2 linked regions of the Homo sapiens genome follow. Each later gene encodes a partner of the first gene's protein in a complex. Each region holds a gene or a part of one and is shown on either strand. Other genes may lie near its edges. The genes, in order: SYNJ2BP and RPS6KA1. A codon is read from its position in the direction of its gene.

Region 1 (12,723 bases):
TTTGAGACAAGGTCTCACTCCGTTGCTCAGGCTAGAATGAAGTGGAGCAATCACGGCTCACTGCACCTCAGTCTCCTGGGCTCAAGCAATCCTCCCGTGTAGCTGGGCCTACAGGAATGCACCACTAATTTGTTTGACTTTTAGTAAAGACAGGGTTTCACCACATTGTGCAGGCTGGTCTCAAAACTCCTGAGCTCAAGTGACCCACCTGCCTAGGCCTCCTAGAGTGCTGGGATTACAGGCATGAGCCACCATGCCCAGCCTATGAACTTGCTTTTCTAACAAGTTCCCCAGTAACGCTGATGCTTTTGTCAGGACCTTGCTTTGAGAACCACTTCCAGTGAGAGAATATCATTGATGCTGGCATCTGAAGTCCTGAGTTTAAATCCTGATTCTATTATTACCACCTACATAATCCTAGTCAAGTAATTTTTTCTCTCATTTTTAGTCTCTTTGTGACAATACTTAGATCCCAGAGTTATGAGACATGAAATAATGTACCAATCAGAGTTTGGTACAGTCCCTGGCATAGAACACAATAACAAATATTAACTTCCTTTTTCCATTATACATGGCTAGATGGAACAATTAAGTTAAATCGATAACACATAAGTTGAAACTTCACAGGAAAACAAAGTACAGCTAGTTGAAGCAAACAATATCTTATAATTATACATGTAATACAGAATGATAGAGAAATGTTTTAAGTACTTAAAAATACCTTCGTTCAATTTTCAAAACTTTGAACGTAATAATTTAGGTAGTAGGAACATTAGATGCAATCTATAGAAGAAATATTAGACTCAATCTATGAAGAACATGAATTTTTTTACAACCTATAATGGATCCTGATACCTCATCTATAATTTTAGTTTTCTATAGAATCAATAATATAATTAGTGTACCTGCTTAAAACTGTATTACATTGATCTTCAATGCTACTTAATTTCTGAGAAAACCTAAGTTATAAGAGTACATCAGAATCTCTATTATCAACCAAAGCAAAACTTCTACCAACGACAGAATGGATACTTTTTAAACAAATTTACATATACCAACAAGCAAAAAACTAGAGCTTTCATTCCTGCTTGACATTTTTTTCACTTTGTGTGTCTCAAGGCTCTCTCAGGAATCAGTGTCCAAACCATGAGGTGAATCCTGGGAGGTAAGCAAGCTTGCTGTAGAAGCCGCTGTACATGCCTTCAGGAACAGAAAGGGTACCAGAGGCTGTGCCCTCCTAGTGTGGCTGGTTGGAGTGACAACTAGAATGTTGTCCGTGTTTTTCTGTGGAACCTACAATGAGTCCAGTTGTCTAAGTGAGTCTCAAAGGTATTGAATAGTTGATGTCAAAAGGCACTTTATGTCAGGACTGTTTAAAGCAAGTTTCTCCCTATACCAGTAGTGACCCAGAGGCAAGGTCTTACCGGACCTCTTATTTTCAAAAGCCTTCCCTTTCCAATTGAGCCTGATGCCATTATGTGACATCTTTTTTTCCCTGAATTTCTAAAAGAAAATGTGATGATTACCTGCATATCTTCTTTGTTGCTGCATCGTGTTTTGCATGGTACCCCTTTAATATTGTTTTCAATACTTAGCCTGCTGATATACTTTTAACTTCTCACCTGTTTATGAATTCTCTTAACTAGGCTGTGAGGCCCTTAAGGGTCTTCAACTTGTCCCTTTCCTCCACGTAACTTTCTCAAACGCCCCAGTTCTCAGTAACTTTTCTCTTTTGCTGTCTGTAATATAAACATGACCCCTACTTACACTGTCCTACCTATGTGGCCAATAAGAGTGTTGTCTTCGCAGTTGGAACCCAAAAGCCCTATGGGATGGAGGATATGCACTGTACTTCTTTGTAAAAGTGTCTTGACAAAGCTGATGTCCAATCAACATTTAATTACCAGACTGTCCAAGCTAGAAATGAAATACAGTTGATTGCCTGAGTCCTGATAATCTTGCTAACAAAATTATAAAAGGCCTATAGTATGGCCAATATATTTGGCTAATGGAAATGATTTTCTTAAAGCCAGAAAATTCAGCTACCCATAGTGCTTAAAACCAGCCTTAAAAGAACATGAACAGGATGGTTCCCACCTTATCGAGATCACTGGCATTCCATAGTATCCATTCATTCATATCCTCCTCCTAGGCCGCATGAAACACCTACCACATTTCCCTACCTCCTAAAGCAAACAAAACTCTTTTCCTCCCTCTTGCTGCAAAAAGGTTTATTAAAAGCCGTATGTAGTGTATAAAGCCTTTCAAAAATACTAGCAATCCATGCCTTTCTTTTTTTGAGATGGAGTCTTGCTCTGTAGCCCAGGCTGGAGTGCAGTGGCGTGATCTTGGCTCACTGCAACCTCCGTCTCCCAGGTCCTGGTTCAAACAGTTCTCCTGCCTCAGCCTCCTGAGTAGCTGGAATTACAGGAACGCGCCACCATGTCCAGGTAATTTTTGTATTTTCAGTAGACATGGGGTTTCACCATGTTGGCCAGGCTGGTCTTGAACTCCTGACCTTGTGATCTGCCTGCCTCGGCCTCCCAAAGTGCTGAGATGACAGGTGTGAGCCGCTGCACCCGGCCTCATTTTAACTAAATCTGAAGCCAGAGTTGATTTGATGCCCATCCTGCCAGGGAGGCAGTTCCTTCCCTCAGGTTTGTTAGTAGAAACCAAAAAGTAGCCTGAGAGGGTTCAGGTGCCACCTTGGAGGCACTACCTTATCTTTTGTCCTTTTAGAGTTTTCTTGCTGGGGTGTTTGGCTCCAGCACTATAGCCCTTACCACAATCATTCCACCTGGTTCTTCAATAGGACTCTGAGGTATCAAAAAAGTCACTAGGGCAGCCCAGAGATTGGTACGATTTACCTTTACACCTCAAAGTTTTTTAGATGTGAGCAGCGCTGGATTATGGCAATTTACCTTATAATAACTCACCATAGTTGGCTGTTATAAGAATAAATATTGTTCTTCTAAGATTTTTAATTAGTTGCTTCAGTTATTACATTTTTTTCTATTTTTTTTTTAAATAGAGATGAGGTTTTGCTATGTTGCCCAGGCTGGTCTCCTGGACTCAAGCAATCTCCCACTTCAGGCTACCAAAGTGCTGGGATTTACAGGCATGAGCCACCTCTCCCAGTCTCAGTTATTATTTTAATAAATGAGACTGAACGTCCTCTTATAAGGCTCACTCCCTTGTTCCTACTACATTTGCTCTGTTTAAGTATCTCTTTAAATTCTTCAGTTAAGATCATCCCTTTTATCAGAAACCTAGACACCACAAAGTAGCTTTCTCACCTTTAATTCTCCATAGGGATCACTATTATACTATAATATTTGCATACGTATGTGTATATATGTATTTGCTTTTTTAAAAAAGTAAAAATGCTCTTCTCACTCTTTGTCGATATAGGCACCCAGGTACGTAGTTAGAAATTAAATAAAGGCCACAATAATTTCCCAAGGAAGATCATTAAAAAGAAAAATCCTTTCTTCCTCTAATATCACATAGCTGGCCTTTATGGCATGCCAGCTAAGAAAAAAGGTATTGCCTATGGTGACAGGAAGACTCAATCTTTCTCTCTTTGGGTTGTAGCTGAATTTCTATCAAAAGTCCTAGTAAAATATATAACTCCTCATTTGTTCTAAGCCAAGTCTTTTCTTCAGTTTTCCTTCAAACAATACCTTTACTTTCCCATTAGAATATGAAGAATTGGAGACTGTGAACAGCAAGGTTTGGGGTGGGTATCAGTCACTTCAAATCTGGCTATGCAGAGAGAGGGAAAGACATGGCAGAATAGCAGGGGTGGAGGGTGAGTGAAATGTATCTTCATTGGGAGTATTGAAAGAGAGCAAGTTTTTCAAAGTTGTTGCCGGTATCTCATGAAAGCCCAGGCTGCTACCATGGTGAGGGCAAACACTGGCACCAGCACCATAAATATGGGAATACCACTTGGGTCCCCTTCACCTCGATGTCCTATAGGTCCATTCTGCACCTGTAACTGGAAGGGAAAGAAAAATGTTAACTCTAGTGACTAATGTGTGTTTGCAACTGAAACGCCCAGGTTGATACATCACCTGGGTTTGTAGACTCTAGACCACCCAAAACTGTAACCCCCAGCAATACCTAGCAGAAGGAGTCCTCTCTTTGTCCTGAGCTGATGCATCAGTGTCACAGGATCTTTGGAAAGAAAATAGGTCTAATGGGGAGGCATTTAACCTTGCTGACCTAAAGGGACCCGTGAGGGCAAGTCAGGTAATTTCTGTTTCTGTACTGCCTCTACCTTGCTATTTGTGTATCGTATCAGGAAAATGAAGACATGAGATAAAACCTATGATCTTATAGGGAACTTGGATATTACTTGGTGAGGAAGAAGGGGGATCTTTCTGGAAATGTTTACTTAGATAATCAGTCATCAAAATGTAGTAAGAGCAGATGTGGGCAATGTCAACATAGGTGCAATACCAACATACGTCCAATGCCATTACTTGAAAAATGCTTTCCAGATCCCAGAAGGCACCCAACTCCCTCCAAAGATGGGGTTTTGCCCTTCATCTGCTCATTTCTAATACTAGAGAGAGATGAAGGTGAATCTATATGGAACAGATGTAAAAAAGCAAAAAGAAATTATATCCTAGTGCTTATAATTTTCTATTGGCTAAGTGTTTCCTTTTGAGGCTGGATGGTCTTCATTTTAGTGATGGTTTTCAGGGTAGCTCTTCTTAATATCAACTTTTAGTGGCTAACTTGCAATAATTATGGCATCATCGTATTTCAGTTAAACTGCCTCATTACAACTCATAAAACTGACACTTCAATCTGAAAGGCAAGACTGCATGAAATACCATTATACCCTCTATTCCACCTCTATGTTTTTCATTCATTTGCTGATGAGCTGTCCTGAAAGGACATGCTCAATAAGAAGGCATGGTTTTTAGGGCTAGGCCAATTGCCTGAACATAAGGGTCTTTTTTATTAGGAATTATTTATGGATGTTTCCTTAAAAGTGAACACTGGAAATAACTTCTCACATACCTTCCAAAAGAATTGTAATCATATTGAAGTGTGTCCCTATATTTACTTGTTTTTATCTACTGCACAAATGCTCCCATGCTTTAGAAAGAGAAGAGCCAAGGCAGAAGCAACTGATGACCAATATTATCTCTTATTAACCTGTTTTCTAATCCATTACACCCAGATTCTGCTTGCAACTGGTTGTTTTCTCAGGTATCTTTCACGTTCTGCCTTCTCTACTTTTTTAGGAACTCCTCTAAATGTTCTTAAGCTTCTAAATCCTTAGCCACTGAGTGAGGAAGAGTGCACCTATTTAAGAAGTAGCAAATTGATTTAATTTAAAGGCACATGGAACCTGTTTTGTGAATATGCTCAGAAATTCTCAATGCTATAGGAGGAATTATATCTACCCAGGCTTCCCTTTACATCATCATCCAAATTATAAAACACTTGGAAATAAGAAACAGATGCAGGGATAGGTGCTGCCTTGACTGAATTCTGAATTCCATTTCCTTTTTCCTGGAGTTCTCCTATGAACACTAAAGATTTGGTTAAGAGGGTCACCAAGTTGATAAATGAAGGGTTCATGGCAGTGACAGGGAAAAGCATATAGTGGGTACCAGAAAACCCACCATCTTTGTAGTGTTTTATCCAATGGTTTTATAAATAAGTTTTCAGCGGTAGACATATGGTTCCTTCCCTACCAAAAAGTAAAATTGGCTACGTTTTTTTACCATCTTTTTAATTAATTAATTTATTTATTTTCCATTGGTCCATGTCACTCTTAAAATTTTTTATTTATTTTTATTATTATTTTTTTAAGAGATGAGGTCTCTCTATGTTGCCCAGGCTGGTCTTGAACTCCCGGGCTCAAGCAATCATACCACCTTGGCCTCCCAAAGTGCTAAGAGTACAGATGTGAGTCACCACACCTGGCTTTTCTTTAATCATCTGTTTTAATTTGGTTGTCAAGCTTTATCTTTAAGGCATATTATCTTGAAGCAAGGACCTTGGTTATAAGCCATACTGTTGTGAATTTCTCTTTTTTTTCTCTTTTTTTCTTTTTTTTTTTTTTGAGACAGGGTCTCACTCTCTTGCCCAGGCTGGAGTATAGTGGTATGATCTTGGCTCACTGCAACCTCTACCTCCTGGGCTCAAGCAATCCTCCCACCTTAGCATCCCAAGTAGCTGAGACTACAGGTGTGCACCACCGTGCCTGAATTTTTTGTATTTTTAGTAGAGATGAGGTTTTGCTATGTTGGCCAGGCTGGTCTCGAACTCCTGGCCTGAAGTGATCCGCCCACCTTGGCCTCCCAAAGTGTTGGGATTACAGGTGTGAGCCACCGTGCCTGGCCTGAATGTCCTTCAATGATAAGCAGAAGTACCAATGGACCCCTCCCTTTGCCTGAGAAACTCTTCAGGGGAGTGAGGGTAAAACAAAAAGCAACACTGAAGATTACACACATTGGGCTTATTCAGAAGTACAGTGCAAAAGCCTGGTGCCAGGTTTCTGGCTCAAAGTGATACCTACCCTGTGCTGCACTCTCAGAGACACAGCATAGCCTGCATTACGAAAGAGGTCTACAGCATCCTGGTGCAGCAGGTTCTTTAGGTCTTGGCCATTTACCTGTCAAAACACCAAAGAGTAGTAAGAAAGGAAGAAGGCTATTAGAAGTCAACAATTTATTTTCAAATGGCCAAACTTTAAATAACAAACTCCTTCAGAGCAAATTGCAAGGACTAGGAGTATGGGCAAAGTTACTTAGAGCTCAGAACTTAGAACTTTTTTCATTTTCAAAACTATGTTTTCCTAGAACTGAAGTTCCACAGGCCATCTGAAGAGAACCTATGTAAAATAAAAAGTGGTCTCTCCTTCCTCTTAGCTTCTATGCCTGTCTCGTTTTGACACTTGGGAATCTGTTACCGTATTAGCATTTCTTCCATGAGTGTTAACCTGCTTCCTTAAAGATAGCATGGTCTTCCAGGTTACCACCCTAACCTTTATATTCCTAAGCCCTGGCATTGCCAGCTGCAACTGTAGAAATATAACTCTATGAAACTCTCCACCAATTTATTTTGATGTCATATAAATCTATACTAGCCCATTCTATTGGGCTTTTCATAGTGAACAACTTCCTGTGATTCCACGGATACTCCTATCCATTATATCCAAATTAGTAAATTAGTCATTTTTTAATCAAAACTTAGTAAAAACCATATTCCTGTGATGATATAAATCCTTAAAAAAATTTCAGTGTAGGTCACTCCTACCACTTAGAGGTGAGAGATGTGAAGGAATACTTGTATTAATACTTTTTGCAGTTAGGAGTGACATCGGCCACAAGTAATAATCTATCTATCCTATGCTGTATTCAGTGACACAGCACAGCCCACTTAGTGCAAGATTACATATCTTTTATACTTGTCAATGTCATCGTTAACAGTAGCAGCAATAAGAACATCTGATATATTTCTTTTGATAGGTTCTGTACTTTACATACATTATCTCTTTTAATTCTCATGATAACCCTATGAGGTAGACATTATTTTTATCTCGTTTCCACAGATAAAGAAACTTGAAGCTCAGTGAGATTTGTGCTGGAGCTAGGGCTAGGATTTGTAAATAATGAAAGAAAGATCAAAGTGTCCTTGCATTTCACTGTTCCTTCTGCACTGTTATTCTTCCATCTTGACTCACCAACTATCCTCTGCTCAGCTAATGCTCAAGTCACTCCCTTACTCAACTCTCTCATTTTCCTTGTCGCAATCTTCCTTCTCCAAGGCACTCATAATCTTCCCTCTACTCTCTCTCTTGCCAATACAGTTGGTGAATGAATCTACCAACACTTCTGCCCTATAGACAGTCTACCTTTGTAAACCAATAGTTTCCAACTCCATTCCACTTCAGTCACCAATTGACGTAAACTTAGACTTCAATATTAGACATGCTTCAGCTCCAATATCTCAAACTCTTAAAAACCTGACAACAATTTCCACTCTTTTCATACTTTCTATTCATCTACTGAATTTCCTCCTTGTAACCTTTTTAGACTTTACTTGCATCCTTGCCCATCTAGGAGTTCCTGTTGTAATTTCAACAAAGCACTTGGTAAATCATTAGAATCCTTTGTCCCCAAGATCTTCTGCCATCTTTCCAGTCCTGGGCCATATTCTGCAATCCTTTTCTTGCCATCATTAAGTTGAATATTCTGGGAGAAAGGTATATTCTCATTCTCCACCATAGACCCATACTAGCTGACTCCAGCTCATCCTTAAAACCGCTTCTACTCATTTGCTGAACTCCTTAATAAACACGCAGTGATAGCTGTTCCAGACCTTTTTCCACCACCGTCTCCAACCCCATTTCTACCTCTCTCCCTAGCTGATTCCTTTATCTTTTGTGAGAACACTGAGGACTTCTGATAAATGCTTTCTACATTTTCTTTCCTTCTCCCTCAAAGTTTCTTTATATCTTCTCACTACTCCTTTCCCCTAGTCTCTGAATTAGATCTATTTCCTTTTCAAGGTGAAACCATCCACTGATGATCTTGATCATACTTCTTCTAACCTCCTTACAAAACTCACAGACACTCTGTCTTCTTGATTACTTAACTATTATCTTTCTCTGCTCCTTCTCTCAACTAAAATTATACACCTCTATAAAGAAAACAATACAACTATTTCTTGGAACGCATTATCACTCTCCTCCCATCTTCTTTCCTCTTTCTTTGACTGCTAAATTTGTTCTAAGAACTGTTTGCATGCACTACCTCTATTTCTTCAGCATTCATTCTCTATTCCCCTGTAATCTCACAATGTATGAGGTAGAAGGGAAGAACATGTTTTTCTAAAGGTCACCAATAACTTCCAATCACCAAATCCTATAGCCGTTTTTGTCTTCAGACCACCTCCTCCCTTTTGTAATTTTCTCCTATCTTGGCATATGAACACTTAGCATTCTTTGTTCTTAAATTATTCCTTTCCGGATTTCCTCTTCCCTTTCTTTCTCCTTAAGGTGAGTCAAGGTTTTTCAGTATCAATCCTCTATCTTCTTTCTTTCTCTCCCACTGTGAGCTTTAACAGTTTCAACCATAATCTGTAAGATAACTCCCAAATTTGTATCCCTACTTGTACTTCTGGATTTGCCAGTTTCTTGCTGGATGCCTACACCTGTATACTCTGCTAGACCCTAATTCAACATATCCAAAACCTCTTTATTACTTCCCACAAAAATCAGAATACATACCTTGCTTCTTATTGCCACTATCATTCCTTCAAACTTTTTTTTTTTTTTTTTTTTTTGAGACAGAGTCTTGCTCTGTCCCTCAGGCTGTCACAGTGGTGTGATCATGGCTGACTGGAGACTTGAACTCCTGGGATCAAGTGATTCTCCTGCCTCAGCCTCCGAAAGTGCTGGGATTATAGGTGTGAGACATTGTGCCCCAGCCCAGGCTAAAATTTTAATAATAGTTTTAAACTCTCTCTGCTGTCAACTTTCATATACAATAGATTGCCAAACTCCACAGTCTAACACTATGACATCTCTCATACAGTATTTTCTTTCCTATTGCCTATTTTAGGCTGTTGACACTAAAAACAAAACAAAAACTTGGGACCCCAATCCACCATGTCAAGAGAAAAAATTAAGCTGCAAGCTGAGTCATGCAATAAACTGCTTTTCCTTTTGTTCCCAAGCAGATAGCTACAGATAACAGGTTAAATATCTCCACAGGTAATTACTCTATGTTCACCTTATCTTATGTAAAGTCCCAACTTACTAAGCAAAAGAAAATACGTAATTGACTATTCCCTTGCCTGCTCCTTTCCTCTGGCAACATGTGGATTACCATACCTTCCCTCTTTGCTCTTCAGCCTACTTTAAATATTAAAGCCCTCAAAATCATCTTTGGAGAAAGGAACATACCTGTCTCCCAGGCATGTCCTTAACCTTGGCAAAAGAAACTTCAATCAATTTAGAAGACTCTTGGTTTAAAATACTCTTAGTTGAACTACTGTGATCACTTCTCTCTGATTTACTTTTCTCTAGGTTGGAACCGATTCAAATACTAGGTCTCCAGATTAATCTTCCTAAAGTACAATTCTGTTACTACCACTTTACTGCTCAAAAAACAAAAACAAAACTGGGGAGCAAGGAAAGAGTACATACCTCGTTTCTTATGCTGATATGGAAAGTCTTCCAGGAAATGACTCTAACCTATCTTCTCAGGTTAATTTCTATTTCCTTTCCTATATCCTATACTCTAGCTAAGTCACATAACTCACTGACTGGGACATAAAACATATTTTTTACCTTTATACCTGTGCTCAAACTGTATCTACCACCTAAATGCCCTTCCCTTTTAAAAAATTCTATTTATCTTCCAAGATTGATCTTTAAAAAGGATCAGTCCTGCTACCTACAGTGTAGAAATGAATACAGTTTTCTAGTCGAGGGACTTTAATTTCATGTTATGCCTTGGTTTTCTTGTTAGATATGCTGTAGGAAAAGAACTTCAGGATTTCTATAACTATCACAATGAATTCTCAATGACTCAATTTTCTAGTTAACTCCTGACAGAATAGGTGTGAGATTGCTGACTGTCATGGGAATGCTCACTTAAGTAATCTAGCCCATGTGATAGCTCTATTTCTCATTATAAAGAAATAAGTACTTTCTTTAGAGGCAGACAAGTAAGTTAATGATGCAGTCATGTCAATGAATGCCAAATGATGTCACAGCTCAATATCAGAGCCAAGGTTTCATAGTAATATAAATGCAAATGAGATAACTGGGTCACTATATTAAATGGTAGAAATACTGGGCTTAAAATAATCTTTGCCATAGTAGTCAGTAATAATTGCAGAGAATTATTGAACATAACCATGTCTGGAGCTGTCTGTTCATCTTACATGTATTAACTCATTTAGTCTTCACAATAGTTCTGTAAGTTAGGAACCCCTATTTTATAAGTGATAAAACTGAAGTGTAGAAAGGCTATCAATTTATCTGTGAGCAAACAGAATGAAAGCAGCAAAGCCAAGGATTCAAACTCAAGCAGGCTGGCCCAAAAGCCTTCACTTTAAAACACTAATCTATATGAATTTACATGGCAAGCAAGGATTTTATTTCAGCAACATATTACTGCCTATCACATATATGTTGTAAATTAAATTTTTATTGGTTTTGCCATTTAGTTTGTATTTAATGTTACACATTTAAAAAGTGTTAAGAGTTGAGGCCAGGCATGGTGGCTCACACCTGCAATCCCAACAGTTTGGGAGGCCAAGGAGGGCGAATCATGAGGTCAGGAGTTCGAGACCACCCTGACCAACATGGTGAAACCCCGTCTCTACTAAAAATACAAAAATAAGCTGGGCGTGGTGGCGCACACCTGTAGTCCCAGCTACTCGGGAGGCTGAGGCAGAAGAATCACTTGAACACAGGAGGCAGAGGTTGCAGTGAGCCAAGATTGTGCCACTGTACTCCAGCCTGGGCAACAGAGCAAGACTCTGTCTCAAAAAAAAAAAAAAGTTAGAGTTGAATAAAAACAAGGTATTTATATATTAATATTACTATTCATTTGTATATACAGAAGTAGCATTAAAATTAAAAAAGCAATTTAGTTAGGTGCCACTTCATTGACAAGGCCTTTCTAGATAACGTCACTAGATATGACTGATTTACTTCTTTGAATACTCTGTAACTCTGAATACTATGCAACTATATACTTTGAATACTGTGTAACTCTCTTAAAGTCCAAATTGAACTCTGCCTGACACCACTTTGCATTCTATTGTAACTTCAACATGTATCTCAGCTGATCATTATAACTCTACAATACCTAAGAGAACTTTGTACACTTGAGCATAATAAATAGCACATGCTTTCCTGAAGTTTGGCTGCAGAGTGCACCCTGAAAAAGCCATAAATACACAAAGCCTGACTGACATAATCTCAGTACTACATAAAGCTGCAAGGCCTGGATTCTAATAGTAGCTTTACCTGCCAATGATTCAGTGTGTAATCCTGCCCCTCCATCTGAGTCTCCTTCTGCTAACAGGGAAGAAAGACATTGGTACATCAGGCAAAAGAAGATGTTATAAAGGGCATAGGCCAGTTAAGCCAATTATGCCTTTCAACCCTCCTAGTTAAGGCTAAAGGTATTCTAATTTAAGAGACGTTATTCTAATGACTACTTTAAAACCCCAAATAAGAGACCTTTTAGAAATGCAAAGATAATTCTTTCTTAAAGAACCCTTTCGCATCCTTTACCCAAGGTAAACCAGCCCCTAAAACATGTCATGATTACGACTTTCTCCCTTGACAATATCATTTCTACTCCAAAATTGAATTTGCTCTCCAATACTGACATCCTCTAAGCATTTTTAGATTCCAGCTGCTCAGTGACTAACCACCAAGTTCTGTAGATTTCACCCTTAAGTATCTGTGGAATCCACTCTTTTTATTACCATCCTTACTAACATAGACCAGTGGTTCTCAAAGTGTGGTCCCACCACCAGCAGCCTTAGCATCACCTGGGAACCTGTTAAAAATGCAAACGTTTAGGCCTCATCCTAGCTGCACTTTAACACTCCTTCAAAGTGATTCTCAAGTCTGAGTTAGTTCTTACCTAATCTGCCTGAAACAGTCTTTTAACTGGTCTCCACTCCCAGACTACTTCCCCTATTTAATATACCCCTTTCTACATA
Region 2 (9,729 bases), on another chromosome or scaffold:
AAAGGTGGCATCTCAAATGTCACACTAGATTAGCAAAAAAAGACGGGCAACATTACCTGCATGCAAAGTACCTGGCCCTTGGTAATGGTAGCATTAGTGACTGGGCAGCTGGCACTACCACCCACCCCACTCACCCATCCCTCAGATTGCCCAAGAGAGGGAGACGTTTCTGGAGAAAGCCATGCCCACCCACCTCAGGATGGCCCTGTCCTAGAAGAGGCCTCCCCTGGGGAGGCTGGGGTGGGGCTGGAGGCTTCACTCACTTCTCAGGCTTGAGGTCTCTGTAAATGATACCCAGGCTGTGCAGGTGATCCAGGCCCAGAGCCAGCTCAGCCAGGTAAAACTTCACATCCTCCTCCGTGAACATCACCTGCAAAAGACAGGAGGGGCCTTCAGCAGGGACCTCCTCTTCCTTAAGAGCTGGGGCACTGGGCAGTCAGCAGCTTCCTGGTCCTGAAGAGCCACCCTGGGAGGACCCTTGGAAACCCCAGGCCATATAGCCTTCTCATCATACAAAGGATTTGAAGTATGAAATGACTAATACGCAAGCCACTCATTGTGGCACCATTCAGAAATAGAAGGGGTGGGAAACAGGCCTAGGGTCCAAGAGTAGAAGGCTGGAATCAGCCCTCTCCCCTGCATAATGGAGTGCTTTGCAGCCATGAACTGGAACAAGGAGTTTCTCCGTGTTCTGACATGGAGTGAGCTCCAAGATATACTATCTTGAAAAAAGCAAGGTACAGAACAGTGTATACAGAATAGTACTTTTTACATAAGGAAATGGGGGTAGGAATGAACATATATCGGATTTGTTTGCAAAAGAAACATGGGAAAGTTAAACAAGAAACCAATAAAAATGTTTACCTATAGATGGGAATAGAGGGGGCTGGGGTGGGAGGAAGACTTCTTCATGAATATTTTTCTTTTGAATCATGTATATTACCTATTCAAACATTAAAATCACAATTTAAGCCGGGCACGGTGGCTCACACCTATAATCCCAGCCAGCAGTTTGGGAGGCTGAGGCAGGCGGATCACCCGAGGTCAGGAGTTCGAGACCAGCCTGGCCAACATGGAGAAACCCTGTCTCTACCAAAAATACAAAAATTAACCAGGCGTGGTGGCGTGCACCTGTCATCCCAGCTACTCGGGAGGCTGAGGCAGGAGAATTGCTTGAACCCGGGAGGCGGAGGTTGCAGTGAGCTGAGACCCCACCAGTGCACTCCAGCCTGGGTGACAAGAGCAAAACTCCATCTGAAAAAAAAAAAAAAATTACAATTAAAAAAAAAAAAAGCTAGATTCTCTTTAAAGTTTGAATTGTACGAATGGTCCCATTTTCTAGCTCAAATCCTTTTTTTTTTTTTTTTTTTTTTTGAGACAGAGTCTCGCTCTGTTGCCAAGCTGGAGTGCAGTGGCGCGATCTTGGCTCACTGCAACCTCTGCCTCCTGGGTTCAAGCGATTCTTGTGCCTCCGCTTCCTGAGTAGCTGGGATTACAGGCACACTCCACCATACCCAGCTAATTTTTGTATTTTTAGTAGAGACGGGGTTTCACCATGTTGGGCAGGATGGTCTTGATCTCCTGACCTCCTGATCTGCCCACCTCGGCCTCCCAAAGTGCTGGGATAACAGGCGTGAGCCGCTGCGCCCAGCCTCAAATCCTTTTATATTGGTTCAAAATCCTTTTGGATGACATACGCAAGATGACTGCTAAAGTCTCTGGCTCTCTGGGTGACTTTGGGCTTCTCCCCTATCTTCACACCTCTGCCCAGAGCAGCCCTGGAAGAAGGCAGGTGCAGAGGTGAGAGGAACCCTTAGCTCCCTGGAGTTTCCTTGGGAGAAACTCTCAGAGACCTTGCCAGCGTATGGCCTCCATTCCAGGGTGCGTGGTATTTCCTGGGCCAGGGGCTGCTAGGCAGGCCTGGGTGGTTCCAGGTTCAAGCCATACCAAACACATTCTGTACAGGGCCCTGGGATGGGAGGACTTGTCGTCCCTCAGCTCCATCCCGGGGCCCTCTGGCAGTAGATGTCAGCTCACCTCTTTTGAGAGCCGGGTGAAGAGGTCCCCACCACGCAGGAAGTCCAGAATGAGATAGAGCTTGCCCTCGGTCTGGAAGGCTGGGAAGAGGGAGAAAGGCAATGGTAGAGTCGGCGCGGCCTTATGATCTGCTTCTCCGGCCCTGGCTCCCTTGGCCTGCCAGGCAGGCGGTGGGACAGTGTACAGACCACAGGCAAGGGCGAAGGATGGGTGGGGTAGGAGCTCAGGCAGGGCCAGAAGCTTTACCATAGTGCAGCTTCACCACGAATGGGTGATTTACATCAGCCAGGATGTCTCTCTCCATCTTGGTCCGGACGCGGTCACGTACTGGCCAGACGAGAAAGGAAGTCACCAGTAGCCTAGACACTCAACACAGCCACTCCCAAGCCCCCGCTAAGGGATCTCTTTTCCACTTGTTCCTCCAGGCCTGAGCTCCCAAAGCCCCCTCACCCAGGGCTTTGGGGACACTCAATCCTCAGGTTTCCTCCTTGCCAGTCTGTTTCTGGCTCCTTGGCTGGCTCCTTGTCCCCACCCCTCACAGCAGTGCCCACAGCTGGGGCCTTGGCACCCTGCCCATCTCTCTGGTCCCTTTTCCCACCAGACCCCATCAAGACCTGTTAATCAGCCAGTCTGAGCAACCTGCTCCCCCAGGGTTCTCTGCTTTGTCAGATCCTCAGACTTTGCCTCTGCACCTCCCCCTGGCATGCCTTCACCAGCTCTGCTTTCCATCTGGCATAAAAATTCCCAAATTCTGGTCTCGGGGCTGGTAAGAACGGCTACCTGGTGAGCTGGATCCCTGGGCCTAAAATCCCGATCTATGGGTCTGGGTGGGCACCCTTCATATTATTTATTTATTTTTTTAAATAATACAAGTTATTGGGCAGTTCTGATTCTCAGCAGGTTCTTTGACTCAGCTTAGGCCTCACCTTCTCCAGGAAGCGCTCCTTAATTTGCCAAGCTGGGTTAGGGCCTTCTGGATTCCTACAGTGCTTGTGCTTCTCCTTTGGAGCACTTTTCTCTTTTTCAGGTTGCCTTCTAAATTTATTGAAGCCCACCAAGTATCATGTTTTATTGATTTCACTAGTCTGATTAGAACAGGCTTTTGGGCCGGGCACAGTGGCTCATGCCTGTAATCCCAGCACTTTGGGAGGCTGAGGCAGGAGGATCACTTGAGGTCAGGAGTTCGAGACTAGCCTGGCCAACATGGTGAAACCCTGTCTCTATTAAAAATACAAAAATTGGGACCAGGCGTGGTGGCTCACACCTCTAATCCCAGCACTTTGGGAGGCCGAGGCAGGCAGATCATGAGGTCAGGAGATCGAGACCATCCTGGCCAACATGGTGAAACCCTGTCTCTAGTAAAAAATACAAAAAATTAGCCAGCCTGGTGGCACGTGCCTGTAATCCCAGCTACTCAGGAGGCTGAGGCAGGGGAATCGCTTGAACCCAGGAGGCGGAGGTTGCAGTGAGCCGAGATCACGCCACTGCACTCCAGCCTGGTGACAGAGTGAGACTCTGCCTCAAAAAAAAAAAAAAAAAAAAATTGGCCAGGCGTGGTGGCTCATGCCTGTAATACTAGCACTTTGGGAGGCTGAGGAAGGCGGATCACCTGAAGTCAGGAGTTTGAGACCAGCCTGACCAACATGGAGAAACCCTGTCTCTACTAAAAATACAAAATTAGCTAGGCGTGGTGGCGTGGGCCTGTAATCCCAGTTACTCGTGAGGCCGAGGCAGGAGAATCACTTGAACCCGGGAGGCAGAGGTTGTGATGAGCCGAGATTGCACCATTGCACTCCAGTCTGGGCAACGAGAGTGAAACTCCGTCTCAAAAAAGAAAAAAATATATATACAAAAATTAGCCAGGCGTGGTGGCATGTGCCTGTAATCCCAGCTACTCAGGAGGCTGAGGCAGGAGAATTGCCTGAACCTGCGGAGCGGAGGTTGCAGTGAGCCGAGATCACACCACTGCCCTCCAGTCTGAGCGATAGAGTGAGACTCCATCTCGGGAAAGAAAAAAAAAAAAAAAAAAAAAAGAACAGGCTTTTGGACATGGCTGCCTAGGTTCATTTTGGGCAGTGTGTTTCAACTAAGTTTATCACAATATTGATTACCCCTTGACTGAGACCTCTCATGTGTCCTTTGACTTTTTTTTAATGGGACAGGGTCTCACTCTGTCACCCAAGCTGGAGTGCAGTGGTGTGATCTTGGCTCACTGCAACCTTTGCCTCCCAGGTTCAAGCGATTCTAGTGCCTCAGCCTCCTGAGTAGCTGGGATTACAGACACACCAAACCTGGCTCATTTTTTTTGTATTTTTAGTAGAGACAGGGTTTCACCATGTTGGCCAGGCTGGTCTTGAGCTCCTGACCTCAAATGATCCACCCACCTTGGCCTCCCAAAGTGCTGGGATTACAGGCATGAGCCACCGCACCCAGCCTTGACTTTTATTAAAAGGAGAGGTGGAAGGCTAGGGAGTGCTTACTAAGACCAGACAAAATGTCTGAGCAATACACACAATGCAAAACTAAAGGCTTTTTTGGTCCATGTACTGGATTGGCAGTTTCCTCTCCAGCCTCATAGTCCCAAAGCCTTCACTAGTCCATCCATCTAGTATGAATTCTATTCATTCGTCACTGCCATTCCAGAATTGATGCTCACAGCTGCTTATCTTAGGAGATCTGGCCAATGTACTCCTCCTGCATGTCTTTCCGGAGTCTTGTTCAGGACACAATCCTTGGCCCTTGCTACAAGTAGAAGCTGCAGCTGCCTTCCAACACACCTTCTATGTCAGCACACAGGGCTGCAGGAGCTGGTCCCCTTCTTCTGTTTTAATTTTTGTGTTTTCCTCATTAGACATGACAAGGACCACACCGGAGTTAACTATTTTGGTCACCTTACATTTTCTTTTTTCTTTTTTTTTTTTTCTGAGATGGAGTTTCGCTCTCATCGCCCAGGCTGGAGTATGGTGGCGCGATCTCGGCTCACTGCAATCTCCACCTCCTGGGTTCAAGCAATTCTTGTGCCTCAACCTCCTGAGTAGCTGGGACTATAGGTGTGCATACCAGCATACCCAGATAATTTTTGTATTTTAGTAGAGATGGGGTTTTCCCATGTTGGCCAGGCTGGTCTCGAACTCTTGACCTCAAGTGATCCACTCGCCTCAGCTTTCCAAAGTGCTAGGATTACAGGTATGAGCCACAGCACCCAGCTTACCTTACATTTTCAAACCACCTCTACACTTTAGTTCAGGCAAACAGTTTCTCCTTCCCAGGGTCCCCTTCCTCAAACATTTTTGGTCTAGAGAAATCCACTCATCCTCCAAGGCTTCCCGCTCCTTAGGTGTCCCCTTGGCCTCTGGGCCCACCCTCTACAAGACTACACCACCACTCCCAGCTCCCCAGCGCGTCGGATATCCACGCACACCAGTCACAGCACCGGCTGCACCACACTGTCGGGTATGCTTAGCCTCTCCTGCCCAGCCTGTGAGCCCTTCACAGCAGGGACCCAGGCTTTTCATCTTTCTCCTCCCTCTGAAGCTGCCACCATACCTCCTGGGGGATGACTTCCACACCCACCAGGCTGGCCTTAGGATACCAAAGCCACCCATAACGTCCTTAAGGCTGACGCCTCCTACTGCCCCCACTACCTCCCCAGCTAGGATTTGGCTCTGACTGGGATCAGAGGTGCACACCACCACACCCAGCTCATTTCTTTGTATTTTTAGTAGAGACGGGGTTTCAACATGTTGGTCAGGTCTTGAACTCCTGACCTCAAATGACCCGCCCACCTCAGCCTCCCAAAGTGCTGGGATTACAGGTGTGAGCCACCGCGCCCGGCCTTGACTTATTTAAAGAGAGACTTGGCTATGACTCTGCCGGGTCAGTGGTCACACTGGTTCCCAGGCCAAGTGGTCAGTATCCAACCCAAAGCCCACTACCAACCATCTTCACACCCTTTGTAAGTCCCCAGAACTCTAACCTTGGCTCGGGGCTCCCTTCTGAACCTCTCTGCCATCCAGCTCTGTGGCCCTGCCTGGACTCACCCTCTCTTGCCTAGCCCAGCTGCCTCCCTGGGCTCCCTGCCTCTTCACTCACGCCCTTCTCTCAGGCCCCTGAGTTAGGGGCCACAGAGGTCTCCCCCAGACTCTTCTAGCATCAACAGTCAGAATGCCTCTGCTTGACCAGCTTGGTAGTTGAGGGCCCCGCCCCCTGACAAACACATTGCATTTACCCTATTACCACCTTCCAGACCTTCACAGCCAGTCACTAGCACTTGGCTTAGGGGGAGGAGGATTGGCTGGCGAGGGATAGCTGAGAAATAGGCCTGTTTCTCCACCTTTGAACTAGGTGCTCCTGAAGACAGAGCTGTCTCCCTTGCCAGACCCAAGGCCCTTGAAGTCTGGGCTGCCTCCCTCAGCCAAGCCTGGGTTCTGCACAGGGAGGTGTCCCCACTCACCTTTCAGCGTTGCCTTCTTCAGCACCTTCATAGCATACAGGTGCCCACTGTCAGGCCGGGTGACTTTCCGCACCAGGAAGACCTGAGAAGGCAGAGCAGGAAGCAGGGCAGAAGATGGGAGAGGTCTGAGTCCAGGCTGACCTCTATCTTCTCTGAGCCCCAAGCTGACCTTTTTGCTCTCCCTGGGTACCAAGGTGACCTCTGATCCTTTGGGCCCCTAGGTGACCCTTGACCCCCACCTCTAACATGACGAGTGTTGCCTTCACAGCTATGGGCTCATGACTCACTTTGCCAAAGGATCCCTGGCCCAGAACCTTGAGGAGCTCGAAATGGGATGGATCAGCCTTCTCAGAGCCAGCCTTGACGTGGTGCGTGATGGAGATCTCCTTGAGGACGCCCTCATCCTGATGGAGGGACAGAGCTGGTGGGCATGGTGGGCCCCATCCAGGCAGCAGGAGGCTCCCCTGCCCAAGTCCATTCCCACCAGACCACAGCAGATGGAACCTAAAGGCCCAATAGACGACTTCCCTGAAGGGCTAGCCTCCAGGGTCATCGATTTCAAAAGAGCCTCAAAGTCTGGGGAGGTCAAACCAGAACAGGCACCGCTCCTATTGCTCACGATGCTCTGGCCTGGTTAGGCCCAAAGGGATGCCCAGGCATGGCCAGGCTGAGTCAACCCCAGGCTCTGGCTGAGACCCAGAGACCTGCCCCAGGTCCGCCCGTGGGGCTTCCCTCCCCCTGTTGTTTTAGTGTTGCCACAATAGGAAGTAGGCTTGTTCTCATATGGGGAGGTAGAGCTGGGCCTTCGTTCCTGGTCAGGATGGGATGAGGGGATCCCTCTGGTCAGCAGGACAGGGCTGACGTGCACAAAGACCCAAGAGTCACCCAAACTCCCCCATCAACTAGGTAAGTGCTGGCCTGGGGCAGGTCAGAGTTAAGGCCAAAGACTGCATGGCTCAACTTCCCAAACTTCCCTCATACAAACCTACTGGAAGCCCCTTGCCAGGTCCTAGCCTTTCCAGGACTCTACCCTCCCTCCAATCTGCTGCCATTGCCTTGAAGCCCTGAAGTGCCTCCTCACTTCCCCAGGAAGCAAGTCTGGGCAGGGTCCAGTCACCCTGCAGGGCCAGGCCTGGGCCAGGACAGCCCAAAGCCAGCTTATGTTAAGCTGGCTTCCCAGGCACCTGCTGCAAGGGACACAGCCAGGTCAGGACCAGACATTCGGGCACACTCACCGAGTCCCGCTGGGGGCCAGAGCCAGGGCCAGGGACAGGCAGAGAGGTCTGGCTGATCCTGGGCCGCTGCTTCCTGGGAAGCCAGGGGATCAGGGCCCAGAGCCGCAGACGGGGCGGCTTGGGATCCTGCTCCATCCGCCCAGCAGGGCCACGGCACCATGGCAGGAGCAGGCAGAGTCCGGGGCTGCCGCAGTGGTGGCCGGGACCAAGGCGGATGTGCAGGGTAAGGGCGGGGGCTGGGCCTGGCCCAGGGCAGCCAATCACTCAGGGCCTGTGGTTTCCCAGCACCAGGCCTACACCCTCACCACGTTCCCTTCCTCTCTCTCCCCCTCTCCTCAGAGCCTGAGGGCTGCCCTCTGGCCGTTCCCCCATCCTCCCTGTGGGCCTACAAAGGGAAAGTCCCCTGCCAATGCAGCTGCTGAGCAGACTGGTACCCAACAGCAGAGAGGTACCCAATAGCAAACAGGTACCCAACAGACAAAGACAGGTGCCTGATATGTGGAGGCAGACGAAGAGAGACACCCAACAGGCAGAAGCAGGCACCCAACAGGTGGAAACAGGTAAGAATGGCATCCATCATGCCTGTAATCCCAGCACTTTGGGAGGCTGAGGCGGGCGGATCATGAGGTCAGGAGATCGAGACGATCCTGGTTAACATGATGAAACCCTGTCTCTACTAAAAATACAAAAAAAAAAAAAATTGGCCAGGCGTGGTGGTCAGCTCCTGTAGTCCCAGCTATTCGGGAGCTGAGGCAGGAGAATGGCATGAACCTGGAAGGCGGAGCTTGCAGTGAGCCGAGATAGCGCCACTGCACTCCAGCCTGGGTGGCAGAGCAAGACTCCATCTCAAAAAAAAAGAAAAAGAAAAAGAAAGAATGGCATCCAACAGGCAGGGGCAGGAGAGAACACATACCCAACAGGCAGGGATGGAGGATAAGGACACGCACCCAACAGGCAGAGGCAGGAGGAATTCATATCCAATAGAAAACAGATGGAGACACGTACCTGACAAGGGGAAGCAGGAGGGGACTCATATCTAACAGACAGAGGTGGACAGAGACTCATCCCCAATGTGTGTAGGCAGATAGGGACACAAGCCCAACAGCCAGAGACAGATGGGGACATATACCCAATAGGTAAAGACAGATGGGGACATGTACCCAACAGGCAAAGGCAGGAGGAACACATCTCCAATAGGCAGAGACAGAAGAGAATACCAACCCAACAGGCAATGACAGAAGGGGACATAAACCCAACAGGCAGGCTGGGCGTGGTGGCTCACGCCTGTAATCCCAGCACTTTGGGAGGCCGAGGCAGGTGGATCACGAGGTTAGGAGATCGAGACCATCCTGGCTAACACGGTGAAACCCCGTCTCTACTAAAAATACAAAAAATTAGCTGGGCGTGGTGGTGGGCACCTGTAATCCCAGATACTTGGGAAGCTGAGGCAGGAGAATGGCTTGAACCTGGGAGGGGGAGGCTGCAGTGAGCCAAGATCGCACCACCGCACTCCAGCCTGGGCGACAAAGTGAGACTCCGTTTCAAAAAAAAAACCAACAGGCAATGACAGAAGGGGACATGTATCCAAAAGGCAGAGACAGATGGTGACACAAACCCAACAGGCAAAGACAGAAGGGGACAGGTATCCAACAGGCAGAGACAGATGAAGACATAAACCCAACAGGCAGAGACAGAAGGGGACATGAACAACAGGCACCTAACATGTGACATGTACCCAAAAGGTGAAGTCAGGCACTTATCAAGTGGAGACAGAGATTGGAACCCAACCACAGACAGAGGTAGGCAGCAAAGAGAGACAGCGGGAGAGTCAGCGAGCCCCAAGCAGACTGACAATACCTAGGGCAGATAGGTCTGACACCTGGCAGACACACGGGCAGGCAGCAGGGCAGGGATCCCCAGGAAGGGGTTAAGGGCAGAGCTGTGGGTTCTTGCTGCTGTACCTGGGGTGGGGAAAGAGATGAGGGGAGACAATCTGCAAACTCC

The links.
Region 2: the proteins of SYNJ2BP (region 1) and RPS6KA1 are in contact, whole or in part, in a crystal structure (PDB 7P74), measured with the Homo sapiens proteins. Residues at the interface, in NP_060843.2 of Homo sapiens: Arg18, Gly22, Leu23, Gly24, Phe25, Asn26, Ile27, Val28, Gln33, Ser45, Arg46, His78 (codon at 6,610), Val82 (codon at 6,598), Phe85 (codon at 6,589), Arg86 (codon at 6,586); in NP_002944.2 of Homo sapiens: Pro731, Ser732, Thr733, Thr734, Leu735.

The regions. Positions count from the first base shown.
Region 1 is NC_000014.9:70,369,132-70,381,854, forward strand, and holds part of SYNJ2BP (synaptojanin-2-binding protein), read right to left. Parts: intron 6,641-12,723; coding exon 6,545-6,640; intron 4,001-6,544; coding exon 3,860-4,000; 3' UTR 1-3,859. Other genes in the region: SYNJ2BP-COX16 protein, read right to left, coding at 3,902-4,000, 6,545-6,640. UniProt on the Homo sapiens protein: Regulates endocytosis of activin type 2 receptor kinases through the Ral/RALBP1-dependent pathway and may be involved in suppression of activin-induced signal transduction.
Region 2 is NC_000001.11:26,544,032-26,553,760, reverse strand, and holds part of RPS6KA1 (ribosomal protein S6 kinase alpha-1), read right to left. Parts: intron 7,920-9,729; exon of another isoform or gene 7,861-7,919; coding exon of another isoform or gene 7,726-7,860; intron 6,895-7,725; coding exon 6,778-6,894; intron 6,573-6,777; coding exon 6,491-6,572; intron 2,365-6,490; coding exon 2,284-2,364; intron 2,118-2,283; coding exon 2,038-2,117; intron 371-2,037; coding exon 264-370; intron 1-263. UniProt on the Homo sapiens protein: Serine/threonine-protein kinase that acts downstream of ERK (MAPK1/ERK2 and MAPK3/ERK1) signaling and mediates mitogenic and stress-induced activation of the transcription factors CREB1, ETV1/ER81 and NR4A1/NUR77, regulates translation through RPS6 and EIF4B phosphorylation, and mediates cellular proliferation, survival, and differentiation by modulating mTOR signaling and repressing pro-apoptotic function of BAD and DAPK1.